Linked DNA regions of Homo sapiens: regions 2, 3 and 4 are each reported to be linked to region 1. The links are microRNA targets in miRTarBase. Many come from high-throughput screens and were not tested one by one. Region 1 holds a microRNA gene; each other region holds the end of a gene's coding sequence.

Region 1 (4,149 bases):
TTGGGTCTGAGCTGCCCTGACCCTGTGTGACTGTTTTGTCCTTGTGAAGGGCTGAGGGCAAGATCAAGCATTGCCGTGTCCAGCAAGAGGGCCAGACAGTGATGCTAGGGAACTCGGAGTTCGACAGCCTTGTTGACCTCATCAGCTACTATGAGAAACACCCGCTATACCGCAAGATGAAGCTGCGCTATCCCATCAACGAGGAGGCACTGGAGAAGATTGGCACAGCTGTGAGGGGGCTGTGGTAGACGGGGCATGGCAGGGGAGGCAGGAGAGACCCAGAATCTTACCAGTCTCTGGATGTGTGTAACAGCAAGACCTGGTGTGTTGTAGAAGTTCGTGGGAGGGCCCCTGACTCCAGCTGGGAGCCACAGTGTGGGTACCAGGAGGGTGTCTGCAGGAGGGGACATCTGAGCAGCATCTTTAAGGATGGGGACAGGCACATAAGCAGAGGGTTCCTCATGAGTCAAGATGTGGAGTGAGGAGGTTCTGGGGCTCACACTGGGAGAGGTGCACACAGTGGAAACTCATCCACCTGGGCTTGGCCTGGACTCTGTCCTAGGGCAGATGAGATGAGGCTACCCAAGAGTGGTTGTGGAGCCTCCGCCTGGTGGATGGTATGGAGGGCAGAGCCACAGGAGGTGAGACCAGTGAGGGAAAAAGTCAGGACCCATGGCAGCACAGCTGGTGATAAGGGCCCTGGACAGAAGGAAGGGGTCTAGGACCAGAAGATCAGTTGAGAGACTGCTGTCGTCAGTAGACAGGGCTGGCTGGGGAGAGAGAGGCCTGTTGTCCACTGGCACCTGGGACTCAAGTGATGGAGAGGAGCGGCAGGAGGAATGTGGGGAGTGGGAAGGCTTTTCCTGACTTTGGGCTCAGCAGTGAACCAACAAGCCACTGAACTAAAGCACTGAATATGGGTAGTCTGTGAAGGGCCCACCTGCACATAGCTCAGAAATACTTGGGAGTTTGGGCATTTAGGACCTGAGAGATTTTAGAATCCTGGGCTGGGCCTTACATGTAAGAATGTGAAGAAAGGAAAGGGAACAGTGAGGCCGGGCCTGAGGCCTCTGAAGCCGTCTCTACTGAGGTCGAAGGATCCCTGTGGATCAGGTGCAAGTTTGCTGCACTGGGGGAAAGGGAAGCTGCTCCAGAAACCAGTAGCTGCTTTCTACCTCTGGGCTCTGGGGCATTAACATATCCCATTGTGTCCTGTTTCCAGGAGCCTGACTACGGGGCCCTGTATGAGGGACGCAACCCTGGCTTCTATGTAGAGGCAAACCCTATGCCAACTTTCAAGGTACAGCTCAGGCCTCTGGGCATAGGAAGCTGGGGAGGGTCCCCAGCTGCTTGGGGCTTCATTTCTGTGTTCTGGGCCATCTGTGGTCTTTGTGGAGAAGTGGTGGTTGTGGTTTTCCGAGGCCCAAGAGGTTGTGAGAGATGTGTGGTTGGTGAGCGACCGCAGGTCTCCCAGGGCCGACCCACTCCCTAGCCCCTACCCCTTAAGTCAGCAGTGACCCTTTAAACTGCTCCTGTGGGTGACCCCTGTTTCCTTCCTGGGCAGCAGCGGGGTAGGAGCTGGGAGGCACACTGGCCACTCATTCCCCGGCCTCATGGAGCCCTGTTACACAGGTTCTTTTTTGTTTTGCCTTTTTCTCTAAAAAGGCCTGGGCCCTATTTCTCACCCCCTCCCCTCCACAGCCAGGGGACCTGGAAGGAAGTTTTTCTTTCCACTTCACAGATGAGTGGTAGGGTCCCATCCAGGCCCCATATGCTTCCAGGTCCCGGGGAGGCACTCAGGGCCACTGCAGACCCTGCCTTCTTGGCCTGCCAGCCCTGACTCCTGGGAGCGGATTCAAGGTTCTCCCTGTGGCCCAGGGTGGGGCTTAAGGTTCCACCTGGGTCCCGAGGTATTTCACTGGCAGAGGCCCTGCCTCTCTGATCATATCTGTCCTGGAGCTTCCCTGCAGGGCAGTAACAAGAACTATAACTAGGGCCTGTTGATGGCAGTGTCATCTCCCACTGGCCTGACCCCAGGCAGGGAAGCCCAAGCACATGTGTGTGTGCACATGAAGCCCCAGGTTGGCAGTGGCAGGGAGAGCCTTTCTGCTCTGACTGGTGCTTCTCACCTCTGCAGTGTGCAGTCAAAGCCCTCTTTGACTACAAGGCCCAGAGGGAGGACGAGCTGACCTTCATCAAGAGCGCCATCATCCAGAATGTGGAGAAGCAAGAGGGAGGCTGGTAAGCCAGTGGTGTGGTAGGCCCAGAGTCCAAGGGCCCCAGTGGAGCTGGGGCCCCAAAGACATGCATTTGTGATGTGCTTGTCTCCTGTGTGCACCAGCAGTGCCTGCCTCACCCTGGCTTAGGCATGGGAACCCCTACCAAAGGATACCCTCCTCATGGGAGTTCGGGGTGGTTGCTGGAGGTCAGCACCCTGTGGCTCCCACAGGTGGCGAGGGGACTACGGAGGGAAGAAGCAGCTGTGGTTCCCATCAAACTACGTGGAAGAGATGGTCAACCCCGTGGCCCTGGAGCCGGAGAGGGAGGTAAGACCAGAACCACCTGAGTAACAGCATTCCCTATTCCCAGATTCTCCTTGGCATGCCCCCATCACACAGTCCCAAGCACGCACGTGCATGCACAGACACCTGTCACATGGGCTGGTCGCACAGCCCATGTGGCCATGCACGTAGTCTCCCATATACCTGTGCTACATTTGGCAGTCACAGGTACACCCACAAGATGTATTTGTCCCATGCACACGGATATCCCCTCACACACATATGCAGTAGCCATGCTGACCATTGGTGGGCTTTGCTTCCCACAGCACTTGGACGAGAACAGCCCCCTAGGGGACTTGCTGCGGGGGGTCTTGGATGTGCCGGCTTGTCAGATTGGTGAGCTCCCATCTGTTTCTCTTGCCCACTGTTCCCTAGGGTGAGATTCTTCTTTGTATCTCTTTCCTGCTCCTAGGGAGGAAGCTGATGGCTGAACCCCAAAGTCTGCCCTCACTCCAAGCTCTCCCCATGCTCTGGACATCCCCTTGACACCCTGGGCTCCCTTTGTCACTGTCAGCTTTGACCCCTGCATGTTTACCTATGCCAGGCACTGGGGAACCCGTCAGAATCAGCAGAACAAAGTTGATGCTGCTGGTTGGCTGACATCCCCAGGCCTAATGGGTTGTACCACAGGGATGTGACAGAGGCTTGGAGATGGGGTGGAGAGGGAGACACGGCCTGAGGAAGAAGCATGAGTCAGAGCTGAGTTGGAACACTGGCTCCACCACAACCAGCAGTGACTTGTTTGAGTTGTAGCGTCGTCATCTGTCAAATGGGCCAGCAGAGTAGTCCTTCCCCTCATGGGGTGTGGGAAGGAGGAAATGGGATGAGATAGAACTCATTTGAGCCAGTGCCTGCGGTGTGGAGTGGGGTGGAGGGGGTGAGATGTCTATTCCCAGCTGTTATCTGCTCTCGCCCTCCCAGCCATCCGTCCTGAGGGCAAGAACAACCGGCTCTTCGTCTTCTCCATCAGCATGGCGTCGGTGGCCCACTGGTCCCTGGATGTTGCTGCCGACTCACAGGAGGAGCTGCAGGACTGGGTGAAAAAGATCCGTGAAGTGGCCCAGACAGCAGACGCCAGGGTGAGATTCTGCTGGAACCTTCTGGGGGGCAGTGTGTGGGCCCGTCAGGCAGCTGAGGCCTCCAGCTCCCAGCACAGGCCCCCTCAGAGCAGTGGGGCAGCCGATGGCCTATGCTAGATAGGCCACAGCCCCTGCCTTAGCTAGGGATTGAGAAGAAACAGACACATAAGATGCAATGTGGTGTGTTTAGGTTGTGTTGAGTTTGAGATACTGATGGGTCGTTGAAGTGGGTCTGCTTAGTGGGCAATTGGATACACAAGACCAGAGGTAAGAGGAGAAGTCCTGGGCTGGAAGCAGGAGTGGAGTGGGGGCTGAGGCATAGAAGGGATGAGGTGGTGTCGCATAGGAAGAGAACTTGGGATGGATTGAGAAGCTCCATATGAGAAGGCATGGGCGAGGAAAGGAGCCCAGGAAAGGCAGGTCAGACAGACTGCAGGCCACTGGTGAGGGAGAGGGTCTGCTGTGTTGAGAGCTACAGAGGTAAAGACAGGAACGATAAGAACTTGCAA
Region 2 (4,000 bases), not on the chromosome of region 1:
TCCTCTAACAGGACATAAAGTTACTGAGAATGTCCTTCAAATTTCTATCATGGCTCTACATTTTAAATAAATAAATGCATAAACAATTTAATTCCCATAATAATAGTCAGAAATACTCACTAAATAAAGGAAAACAATAAATAAATCTTTTATTTTAATACAATCTCGAGATCAATAACACATTGGTAAACTTTCTGCAGAAGTGCATTCCTAAATAAGTAAACCCAAGGCAATAGTTGACAAAAAGGTAAAGAAGTAGCTTTATTTTAAAATACAGTCTTCCTTTGGTATCTTTGGGGGATTGGTTCCAGGAACCCTCATGGATACCAAAATCCTTGGATGTTCATGTCACTTTTATAAAATGGCATGGTATTTGCATATAACCTACAGATTCTCCCAAATACTTTAAATCACCTCTAAATTATTTATAATACCTACAATGTAAATGCTATCCAAATAGTTGTTATATAGTATTGGTTTTTAATTTGTATTTTTTTATATTATTTTTTCTCAAATATTTTTGATATATGGTTGGCTGAATCTGCAGAAGCAGAACCTATGGATACAGAGCACCGACTGTAAATGCCAAAAAAATTAACTTTAAAAAATAACTTCATCAACGTGAGTTATTTTTAAATACAAATAGGGACTGAACATACATGCATCAAATTGTACTCTCGTTCACTGACATAAGCACACCTCCAAACAATACGAAGGTAAATACATAAATATATACAAATAAATACACACACCCAAATAACAAGCTACACATCACCCACCATTTTCCAAGACCAAAATTTTCACATAAACATACTGGCAAATACAGCAAAATATCAGTGTACATTAACATACTTACATATACAGATATGCATAAATACCAGAATTCAAAGCAACATGTAGCATATAACACAGGTACTTAAGGCATAAACACCACAGCTCAGTGAGAAACAGCACAGGGAGAAAGAGTTATCTATTGAAACAAATACTATTGTGACCTTCTCACACTAGGGATGAAAATTCAGCAGTTCACAATGGAATTGAGACTAATAAAATGCTTATGCTTTAAATAATAGAAACAAAGAAACCAGACTCTAAACCACTCCCCACTGCCAATGAGTTTGTTATGTTGATAATGTGAAAACAACTTCAGAGACTTAAAAGCACAGAGAAGCTGGGGAGTCCTATCTAGAAAAAAGATTTGCTACCCTGCCCCTGCCCCTGCCTCTGCCTCTGCCTCTCCCTCTCCCTCTCCCCTCTCCCCTCTCCCCTCTCCCCTCTCCCCTCTCCCTCTCGGTCTCCCTCTCCCTCTCTTTCCACTGTCTCCCTCTGATGCCGAGCCGAAACTGGACTGTACTGCTGCCATCTCGGTTCACTGCAACCTCCCTGCCTGATTCTCCTGCCTCAGCCTGCCGAGGGCCTGCGATTGCAGGCGCGCGCCACCACGCCTGACTGGTTTTCGTACTTTTTTGGTGGAGACGGGGTTTCACTGTGTTGGCCGGGCTGGTCTCCAGCTCCTAACCGCGAGTGATCCGCCAGCCTTGGCCTCCCGAGGTGCCGGGATTGCAGACGGAGTCTGGTTCACTCAGTGCTCAATGGTGCCCAGGCTGGAGTGCAGTGGCATGATCTCAGCTCGCTACAACCTCCATCTCCCAGCCGCCTGCCTTGGCCTCCCAAAGTGCCGAGATTGCAGCCTCTGCCCGGCCGCCACCCCGTCTGGGAAGTGAGGAGCGTCTCTGCCTGGCCGCCCATCGTCTGGGACGTGAGGAGCCCCTCTGCCTGGCTGCCCAGTCTGGAAAGTGAGGAGCGTCTCTGACCGGCCGCCATCCCATCTAGGAAGTGAGGAGCGCCTCTTCCTGGCAGCCATCCCGTCTGGGAAGTGAGGAGCGTCTCTGCCCGGCCGCCCATCGTCTGAGATGTGGGGAGCGCCTCTGCCCCGCCGCCCCGTCTGGGAGGTGAGGAGCGTCTCTGCCCAGCCGCCCCGTCTGAGAAGTGAGGAGACCCTCCGCCCAGCATCCGCCCCATCTGAGAAGTGAGGAGCCCCTCCGCCCGGCAGCCACCCCGTCTGGGAAGTGAGGAGCGTCTCCGCCCGGCAGCCGCCCCGTCCGGGAGGGAGGTGGGGGAGTCAGCCCCCCACCCGGCCAGACGCCCCGTCCGGGAGGTGAGGGGCGCCTCTGCCCAGCCGCCCCTACTGGGAAGTGAGGAGCCCCTCTGCCTGGCCAGCCACCCCGTCCAGGAGGGAGGTGGGGGAGTCAGCCCCCCGCCCGGCCAGCCGCCCCGTCCGGGAGGGAGGTGGGGGGGTCAGCCCCCCACCCGGCCAGCCGCCCCGTCCGGGAGGTGAGGGGCGCCTCTGCCCGGCCGCCCCTACTGGGAAGTGAGGAGCCCCTCTGCCCAGCCAGCCGCCCCGTCCGGGAGGGAGGTGGGGGGGTCAGCCCCCCGCCCGGCCAGCTGCCCCGTCCAGGAGGTGAGGGGCGCCTCTGCCCAGCCGCCCCTACTGGGAAGTGAGGAGCCCCTCTGCCCAGCCAGCCGCCCCGTCCGGGAGGGAGGTGGGGGGGCCAGCCCCCCGCCCGGCCAGCCGCCCCGTCCGGGAGGGAGGTGGGGGGGTCAGCCCCCCGCCCGGCCAGCCGCCCCGTCCGGGAGGTGAGGGGCGACTCTGCCCGGCCACCCCTACTAGGAAGTGAGGAGCCCCTCTGCCCAGCCACCACCTCGTCTGGGAGGTGTACCCAACAGCTCTTTGAGAACGGGCCGGGATGACAATGGCGGTTTTGTGGAATAGAAAGGGGGGAAATGTGGGGAAAAGATAGAGAAATCGGATGGTTGCCGTGTCTGTGTAGAAAGAAGTAGACATGGGAGACTTTTCATTTTGTTCTGTACTAAGATAAATTCTTCTGCCTTGGGATCCTGTTGATCGGTGACCTTACCCCCAACCCTGTGCCCTCTGAAACATGTGCTGTGTCCACTCAGGGTTAAATGGATTAAGGGCGGTGCAAGATGTGCTTTGTTAAACAGATGCTTGAAGGCAGCATGCTCGTTAAGAATCATCACCACTCCCTAATCTCAAGTACCCAGGGACACAAACACTGCGGAAGGCTGCAGGGTCCTCTGCCTAGGAAAACCAGAGACCTTTGTTCACTTGTTTATCTGCCAACCTTCCCTCCACTATTGTCCTATGACCCTGCCAAATCCCCCTCTGCGAGAAACACCCAAGAATGATCAATAAAAAAAATAAAAATTAAAAAAAAAAGTTAAAAAAAAAAAAAAAAAGAAAAAAGATTTGCTAAATGAAATCACTAAAGATGAACATAGAAACAGTCTGTAAAGTTAGCTAAATTATCTTTATTTTTTTTTAGAAACAGGGTCTCACTCTGTTGCCCAGGCTGGAGTGCAGTGGCATGATCTTAGATCACTAAAGCCTCAGACTCCTGGGCTCAAGTGATCCTCCCAGCCTCAACCTCCTAAGTAGCTGGGATCACAGGTGCGTGACACTATGCGTGGCTCAAATTCTTTTTACTTTGAAGGCCCTGCTAGAAACTTGCTGCTGCTCTAATTCACGACTTGGAGAGACAAAACTAAAAAAGCTGTTGCTGGGTTCAGGTGCTGTGGGAGAACCCGCAAAAAATGGTCTGAACTGAAAATCTCCATCTCCATCGCCCCGATTTCGAACAGGTGTATTATCCAAAGGAAACTTGGAGTTGTTACCTAGGGCAGAAAAAAAGGAAAAACATAATTTTATTCATTTGTTATCTATATAATCTACTTCAGAGGAATCATCAAATATATATATATGAATATATATTTTTTCTCCAATATTTGTCTTAGAAAAAAACAGACATATAAAATCTTTTACCCCAGGTTAAGAATTTTTTTAAAAAAACATTGCAATAAACATTCTAGAAAAAATATAACTGAAATATTGGCATATACCATGACCCAATATCAATTAGCATAGGCTTAAGACAAGCAGATAATAGATCTGATTAAATTAACATTTAACTACTTCCAC
Region 3 (4,000 bases), not on the chromosome of region 1:
TTTTGTATTTTTAGTAGAGACGGGATTTCACCATCTTGGCCAGGCTGGTTTTGAACTCCTGACCTCGTGATCCACCCGCCTCAGCCTCCCAAAGTGCTGGGATTACAGGCGTGAGCCACCGCGCCCGGCAAGAATTCAAAGTTAAAACAGGTTACCACTTTCACCTATTACCATCAGGTTGCTTATTTTTGTTTTATGTTTTTTATTTGTATGCATGTTTACTTTATGTTTCAGTTTACTACCCCCTAAGGCAGCAAGAGAGCAGGAAGATAAGCAAAATAGAGATGTTTTTGACAACTTGGCACTGAGAGACTATCCTAAGGGAATAATCTGAAATACATAAAAACATTTTATTCACAAAATTGGTCATCACAGCATTATTTACAATACTGAAAATCTGGAAATAGCCTAAATTTCTAACAATTGAAAGAAGGTTAAGTAAATTATAAGACTACACAATAAAATATATTACCAGCAATATATCTTTGTGAAAATCTATAATAACCACACATAATACTTAGTAAAAAAGAACATAAATTACATGATAAAGAATATGACCAGAACAATGCAAAAAATTCACACCCCCAAAAAAGACAAGATATTATATGGCAATTTTGTGGTAAAATATTCATGTATTTGTGCTGCATTTCTAATTTTTCCGTAACTGACACATCAGTTTTATAATTAGGAAAAAAATACCTTTTTAAAGTAAAGCGAACACAAGATTCTTTAGCAATGTTCATTCCATCCCACAATAGAGTCTAGAGAGTCACAAAAACCTCAGCCTCCTTCGGGAGGGGGGGAGCTTGGTAGTGAAAAATGGTCATGAATGAATGGGTGAAGAGAGGGATGGGACAACCTAGTAGGAGGGAGGTAGGGATAGGCAAGGGAAAGGTGGGGACCAGTAGTCATACTGGTCAGCCAAGGAAAGGGGCATTGTGGAGTCAGGGAAGACTCTGACTGCTCAACAGAGGTCTGTCTAGACCCAGTAGTAGGCACTGACGGTGTTATCAAAGGACAGGATCAAAGAGAGATTTTAGGAAGACACGTGGATTATTTTAGGGACAGGGGAGGAAAGAGGAGGGGTGGGTAAACTACTTGGAAAGAAAGGGAGAAGGACTGAGAAGATGGCAATGGGAGTGGGGAGGAAGGGGCTGATTGCCTTTGTGACCTCACTACCAAACATACTTTGCTCACCTCCAGATAAGTCTTTGTGGGGCAAATGCAGGATAAAGAAACAGCTCATAAGAGGCACTTGCCAACATCCAACAAATTCAGTTCAAAACCACAGAAAATCTAGGAGTCTCCAAAGAAAATCACAGTCCTGCTGTGTTGCCGAGGCTGGAATACAATGGCACGATCTTCATTCACTGAAACCTCCGTCTCCTGGTTCAAGCGATTCTTGTGCCTTGGCCTCCCAAGAAGCTGGGATTACAGGCATGCACCACCACACCCGGCTAACTTTTGTATTTTTAGTAGAGACGGGGTTTCACCATGTTGGCCAGGCTGGTCTTGAACTCCTAACCTCAAGTGATCCGCCTGCCTGGGCCTCCCAAAGTGCTGGGATTACAGGTGTGAGCCACCGCATCCGACTTCTAACGCACTGGGTTTTAACAAGCCCCTCAAGTAGTTCTGATGCTCCCTCATGTTTGTGAGCCACTGAATGAGGGCCATGCAAAATGTCTAGAATCACTAGTTCTGCTGTCAGCTAAACCACATGAAAGAACCCCTGCTCATGTGAAAGAGAGATTTCTACAAATAAAGTGACGGGAGGACCACTAATAAGTTATGTCCAGCTTAGTGGGGTTGGGGAAAGGTTATATGAAGCAACAAAGATACAGTTTCTCTAAGCCAAGTAAAGGTAAAGAACTGTGGAGCAGGCAATAAAGCCAAATGCACTGAACTATGTCATAAGGAATTTACAGGCTGTATTGTAAAAGCCACAGTGAACATGATGACAGCAACAACGAGGATGAAGAACAGCAAAGAAAAAGCTGAGGGAAACCATCGACCAAAGCAAGCGGAGGCTCAAAAGAGAGACGAGCTTCAGGATCAGGAAATGAACAGGGCCCTTCAGTCACGGAGAAGTCGTTGTTGCCAGAACAGTCAGTCACTTAACTGCTTAGAAGATCACCGTGTTACCATATAACCTCTATTGTAGGCTAATTAATTTTTAAAATCTGTCTAAAATTTACTGATTTTAATATAATATCTTGTCATTTTTGGCAACAATACACTGAAGTAACAATGTAGTTTGCTGTATTTTGTTTCACAAATATTTACCTGGAAACACTGGAGACTTTGTAAAGAGAAAATTACTAAAAATTACTCCTTCACTACAGGACAGTAGATATTTAATATTTATTTAGAAAGCTATTGACACTTCTGATGACTACTGATAACTGAGAAGATTCAACATGTTATAAATATGAGTTGTAAATATTCCATCCCTTTTGAGATTATATACACTAAGCTTTTTACTACCACTGGCCTTTCTGGATACTTTCATATTTAGAGAATATAGAACTACATTCTGGGAGATTGACAATGACCTAATATTACACTAATGAAAAGTCTTCACAGTCCTCAAAATAATTTAGAATTTAATGTTTTCTTTAATAAGCAATTAAAATGGAATATTTTCTGCCTCCTGAATAAATACATGTCTGTAACCAACCATCCCTAAAGAAGGATACTAATATATTTTGAGTGATTCAATCCACCCATGGATATAGTCACATCTTTAAATGTTTTCCAGTGTGAACAACAGTCTTTTAATAGATGGCCATTGAGTTCAAGGGTCATATTATTTGCTAACAAATTATTATTTGGGCCAGAAAGTATCTGAAAAAAGTTTAACCAAATTTCCTACACATCTCATATCTCTAGTTTATTAAGCATTATTTATTATTTGGTGTAAAAATTCTACATTAATTACTTCATACATATTTTATCTTGAGATTATGAAATCCCATGGTCTTAGAAACAAAAGATAGACTTTAAGACACTGGCTTCTGCTATTTTTTTTTAACTTTAGATTTGAAAAAGAAACATGGATTACATGTTAACATAATATTTTGAATATATAGGGCTCATAAGATATATTATTAAATTATAAACAAAATAATCAGGAACTTAGTGTGGTGCCTAGTTTGATATATGATTACTTTTTGAAATGCACTAAATTCCACAAATAATGAAAGTATTCTTTGTGTATAATGTTATGTTTGGTTATTATGTATGGTCTTCGTATCCAAAGGTATGACATAACTTGAGTTTGTTTGCTTTGTATTTATTCAGTAAATAAGCCGTAACTGTTTTAAAAAGAGGGAAATTAAAAAAAAAACTGGTCCAATTACCAATTATAAATTTTAATAAAGACTAAACGAAAAGGTTTGGCTGTTACATATTCTCAGGCCAAATTGTTGATGCATGTTTGGATTAACTAGCCCTCAGGCTGCTTCCAATATTATGGGTAATCACAAAACGACCAGCTCTAACTCCTCCTCTCACCAGCTGGAAGGGAGCACATCACATTTGCCATCCATGGTTGGCAAAACTCAAGGCATCAACAACTGGAAAAGATCTCCACCTTGGGAATCATTATACATATTGTGATCCTGCAATGGGTCAGAATCCACAAAATACAGTTCCCCTGCATGGATGTCAGAAAAGTTAGCTAGAAATTCATCAGGATTGAAGCCAACCCACACAGTATACCTATAGTCTATGGTGCGTATGGAATAGCCCATGATCTTTATATCTTTTAAACTCGGCTTGTCAGAATTCCACTGAGGGATGTCTGAAGGCCGGGGATACTGGCTATAGGCAATCAGTTCACGGGGATTACCAGGGAGGTACGGATCCTCTTCCAAGTCACGGAATCGAAAATGCTTCAGAAGGTTCTTGCCTTCTCTGCACAGCTCAACGTGAAATGAAGGAACGGGGCAGCGAGGTGGAACCTGCAGTCCTGCAAGTCCAGCCAGCGTGGGAAAAAGAG
Region 4 (4,000 bases), not on the chromosome of region 1:
CCCATGGGTGTCTCAACTAGGTAGGTAAGGGGTTGGGGTCTCTGCAGGACCCCCCCGTCTGGGGGTGCTCCCCTTCCTTTCCTACCACAGTGTGATGTTTCATCCGCAGCCCAGTGGACATCGAGGGGGTCCCCCAAGCCTGCAGGTCCTTGGGCCAAGGCAGTGGCCTCGTCCCCCTGAAAACGCGGGTCGGGTGGTTTCAACAAAACCTGCACTCATCTTTCCCTCCTCAGCGCCTTCCCTTCTCCAGCCCCCACAAGCCCAGGAACTCTGACAATGATGCTGACACGGGGGTCACTAACTGGAAGAGCAGTGAACAGGAGCTGGGGGCTCTTGGGGGCCATCTGAGCTGAGGACAGCTGGCTGTACCTCCGAGGCCACAGGCACCCCCACCCACCCCTGCGCCTGCAGGGAATGTGCAGAATCTGCCAGAGCGGAGGCCAGAGCCCGCAGGCAGCCACGGCTGTTAGAGGAAGCAGATGCAGCCTCACCCCAGCCCACGTCTGTCACCACAGCCAGGGCCTGGCAGGCGATGGCACCCGCGCAGCTTTGGGAAAGAACACTTGGCCTCCCAAAGGGTTCTGCCACCCCTGGGGGCCGCTACAGCCACCAACCCTGGGGTCTTTCCATCACTTCAGACACTGAGCAGAACCCAGAGAGGGTTAGTGAGCTGCAGGTAGGGCTGGGACGGGGCCCCAGGTTCCAGCCCAGGGTCTCAGGGATCCATGGCTGGCACTGCCCACAGGGCCAGGCATGGGCAGAGCAGCCTTCTCAGCAGCGGGGCCCAGCGGCCAAGCCTCTGTCACACAGCACCCTGTGCCAGCATGCCCCGTGCTAGGGAGAAGATGCTTTTTAAGCCCTCTTTAGGGGGTATTTCCCGTCTAGTAAGTGCCAGCAGGCAGACCCACTCTTGACAGGCTCCTAATGTCCCCACCAGCGTGCACCTGCACTTTTTTTTTTTTTTTTTTGAGACAGAGTCTCGCTCTGTCGCGCAGACTGGAGCGCGGTGTTGTGATCTTGGCTCACTGCAATCTCTGCCTTCTGGCTTCAAGCATTTCTCGTGCCTCAGCCTCCTGAGTAGCTAGGGTTACAGGCACCTGCCACCACGCCCAGCTAATTTTTGTATTTTTAGTAGAGACGGGGTTTTCACCATGTTGGCCAGGCTGGTCTCGAACTCCCAATCTCAGGTGATCCACCCGCCTCAGCCTCCCAAAGTGCTGGGATGACAGGTGTGAGCCAACGTGCCTGGCCTCTTTTATCTTATAGCAAAAATTAGTGCTGCCTTGTTTATAGAAAGTGGCCATTGAGGGACTGGGGGACAGGCCACAGCCACCCCGATGAGAGGAGCGGGCCTGCCCTCACCGACACCAGCCTCCTGGGACCCGGGCCAACAAAAGGGCTGAGATGGGAAGAAAGGTTGGAAATGAAAGCCTCGCCAAAGACGCAGCGGCAATGAGTAGTTGGGCTGAAGGGCAGCGCCACGGGCCGCCCAGACTACAGACAAGGCCTGGCTATGCAGCCCTCACTGGCACCGCGGCCGTGAAGTCAGCTTCTCCTCAGAGCCCTGGAGGCAGGCCTGGCAGAGCAGAGGTGGTGTCCCCGCCTTGGGGGCCTGTGCCCCTGGGAAGGTGCTGGCCCAAATGTCTCAGGCTTTCTGCAGCCCATCCCCAGCAGTTCAGGCCAGAGGCTCTTCCTGCAGGTGGCGGTGGCCTGATGGGCTCAGCAGGCATGCCTGGAGCTGCTGCCCTGAGCTCTGCTCAGGGAGTCTGTTTCTTCTTCCCCAAATTTCCACGGCCTCCCTGAGCTCTCAGATTTTGAGATATAGATATATACATATATATGTATATATTTCTTCACTTGCGGGCAGTTCCAAGGAACTGTTTGTTCCTGGACCTGTATAAAGGTCACTTTTGGGGGACACCCTCCAGCTGCCCCACTGCCAAGCTGGTGCACAGCCCTTCCCTTCCCCGTGCAGGCCTCCAGCCTACCCCTGCACTCCACAACTCTGGGTTTTCAAGGTTCCCTCTCCTAGGAGGACACTGGGGGCAGATGGGGACGAGGGGTCAACACCTGGAGGCAAGCAGGCCAGCTCCCTGCCCCTCACACCAGCTCGGGCAGCATCTCTGCAAAGGCAGTTCCCACCCTACCTGAGGAGGCATGGGCATCCCTGGCCCCAGTCCAACCAGAAGGACTGTAGGTCTAGACCTGGCCAGAGCAGAACAGAACCAGGGTTTGACAGGCCCTGGGGCCCTTTCCTCCTTTCAAAGTAGGCCTCCCAGGAGCAGCTTGTCAGCCACATCCTTGGCAGTCCCAGGAGAGGCAGAAAAGTCTGAGGGTGGGGAGGAGAGCCCACAGAGGGTGGCACTGCGTATTGCCCTGGGGGCTAATGCCAGGGCCTGCTTCCAGGTAAGTCAGGTGGCTCCAGGCCCTGGGACTGGACAGAATGGTCTGTGGCTGATGAGGAAGCAGGGGAAACTCTCCTGCCGTTGGCCAAGTCACCAGGGCCCAAAGCCAGGCAGCTGCCAATCCCACGGAATAAGAGATCTGTTCAGTTTTCTTAGGGAAAACTAAAAATCCAAGGAAACGGAACTCTACACCTCCCTGCTGCACCCAGAACCTAATACAGGGCTCCACCCCTCCCACTCCACAGTGATGCTCCAGTACCTGGGGCCTCTGACCTCCAGAGAAACCGCAGGGCGGCCCGAGACCAGCCCACCCGGCCCCTGTTCTCACGGCCCCTCTGAAGAGTATCTTTAAAAACAGATTTAATGTGTTAAAAAAAAATAGAATCAAGTGGTGTGCTTCGCCACTGAGATGATTGTGCTGTGGCTCCGGGGCCACATAGCACCAGGGCTCGATAGCAGACAGGAGTTTCGGCCCTCGTCCAGTGCATGTGACTGGTGCAGGGGCGGAGGCCCAGCCCCACGGGGGCCAGAGCAGGAACACAGCCACCTGTTCCAACAGGCGCTGTGCCTTGTATGCCCCGTACATGTGCCTGCCCTGAGAGGAGCATGGGCCAGGCCTCTCTTCCAGCTGTGCCCCCAGGGTGCCAGTGAGGCAGGGCGACCTCTCACCAACAGAGCTCCTCCAAGCCATGCTGGATTTGGATTCCTGGAACCCCCTGTACCCATGCGGTGGGCCACCCCAGGGGGAGGGGAGGAGAGATGGGAGACTGTGTGTATGTCCCCTCCCTCCAAGTGCAGCAGGAGAAAGGTCACTGGGCTGGCCTGGTCACACACCGTCATAGGGGCCTGCTGGGGTATGCCCGATGCCCCCCAGCCTCCGGGCCATGCTGATGAGTGAGCGCAACTGCACCAGCCTCAGTGGCCCCACCTCTCTGGGGTCCTGGTTCTCCAGCCACCGCAGAGCTGTTTCTAGCCCCCGCACGGCCTCCCCGGCAGTCGGCACTGAGGTCCCTCCATAGTCGGTGGCCTCCTCCTCGTCCTCTCCGCCCCCCATGGCAGAGGGCAGACTGGCTGGGGCCGGAGGCGCTGCAGGGGGCAGGGCTGGGCCCACCTCCTCCCTGCAGCCCTCGGGCGGACCCCCATCATCGTCCAGGTGCAGCCACTCCGCAACCTCCTCCGGAGCCAGGCACTTGTAGGCCAGAGCCGCCAGGTGGGTGAGGTCGCTGAGCACCCTGCTGTGCTCGGCGGCTTCCTCGGCCTGGGCCGGCTGCCCAGCACTGTCCTCGCCGGGCCGGGGCTCGAAGGCAGCCCGCAGGCCCAGCAGCCAGCAGCGCTCAATGCTGCCCGCCTGCACCAGGTCCCAGGAGAGGCCAGCCAGGTAGAGCATGTCCTTGAGCATGAAGCTGCGCATGAAGTCCAGCGGGGAGCCGCTGGCGCAGGACACAGCCAGTCGCAGCAGCTCGCGCTTGTACAGCTGTTTGAAGGCGGCCACCACGCCCTGCTCCAGCGGTGCGGGGATATGTGCCCGGCTGCTGCCTTTGGACAGGAACAGCACCCGCACAGCGCCATCCGGTGTCTGCAGCTCCTCCGGGGGA

The links. The annotated mature microRNA hsa-miR-6871-5p reads CAUGGGAGUUCGGGGUGGUUGC and lies in region 1 at 2,399-2,420, shown strand. An mRNA with a match to its seed (bases 2 to 7 or 8) in the 3' UTR can be bound and repressed. Matches are read on the target gene's strand: a 7mer-m8 pairs with bases 2 to 8, a 7mer-A1 pairs with bases 2 to 7 and ends in A, and an 8mer does both.
Region 2: miRTarBase lists CCNB1IP1 as a target of hsa-miR-6871-5p. The part of its 3' UTR that is shown has no 7-base or 8-base seed match.
Region 3: miRTarBase lists IDS as a target of hsa-miR-6871-5p. Seed matches in the 3' UTR shown: 7mer-m8 at 1,134-1,140.
Region 4: miRTarBase lists TIGD5 as a target of hsa-miR-6871-5p. Seed matches in the 3' UTR shown: 7mer-m8 at 3,165-3,171.

What each region holds. Positions count from the first base shown.
Region 1 is chr20:41,166,630-41,170,778 of GRCh38, forward strand. MIR6871 (microRNA 6871) reads left to right here and starts at 2,394; the gene lies at 2,394-2,449. PLCG1 (phospholipase C gamma 1) reads left to right here. Exons shown (of 32, transcript NM_002660.3): 19 at 50-230; 20 at 1,223-1,300; 21 at 2,138-2,241; 22 at 2,450-2,546; 23 at 2,828-2,897; 24 at 3,483-3,640.
Region 2 is chr14:20,308,057-20,312,056 of GRCh38, forward strand. CCNB1IP1 (cyclin B1 interacting protein 1) reads right to left here. Exons shown (of 7, transcript NM_021178.5): 7 at 3,314-3,696. The coding sequence ends at 3,494. Among named protein-coding and RNA genes, the nearest start is that of TTC5, 4.1 kb to the left of the region's middle. RefSeq lists a silencer at 821-1,021.
Region 3 is chrX:149,479,186-149,483,185 of GRCh38, forward strand. IDS (iduronate 2-sulfatase) reads right to left here. Exons shown (of 9, transcript NM_000202.8): 9 at 1-4,000. The coding sequence ends at 3,561. Among named protein-coding and RNA genes, the nearest start is that of IDS, 24 kb to the right of the region's middle.
Region 4 is chr8:143,599,064-143,603,063 of GRCh38, reverse strand. It overlaps TIGD5 (tigger transposable element derived 5), which reads right to left. Exons shown (of 1, transcript NM_032862.5): 1 at 1-4,000. The coding sequence ends at 3,232. Among named protein-coding and RNA genes, the nearest start is that of TIGD5, 3.2 kb to the right of the region's middle.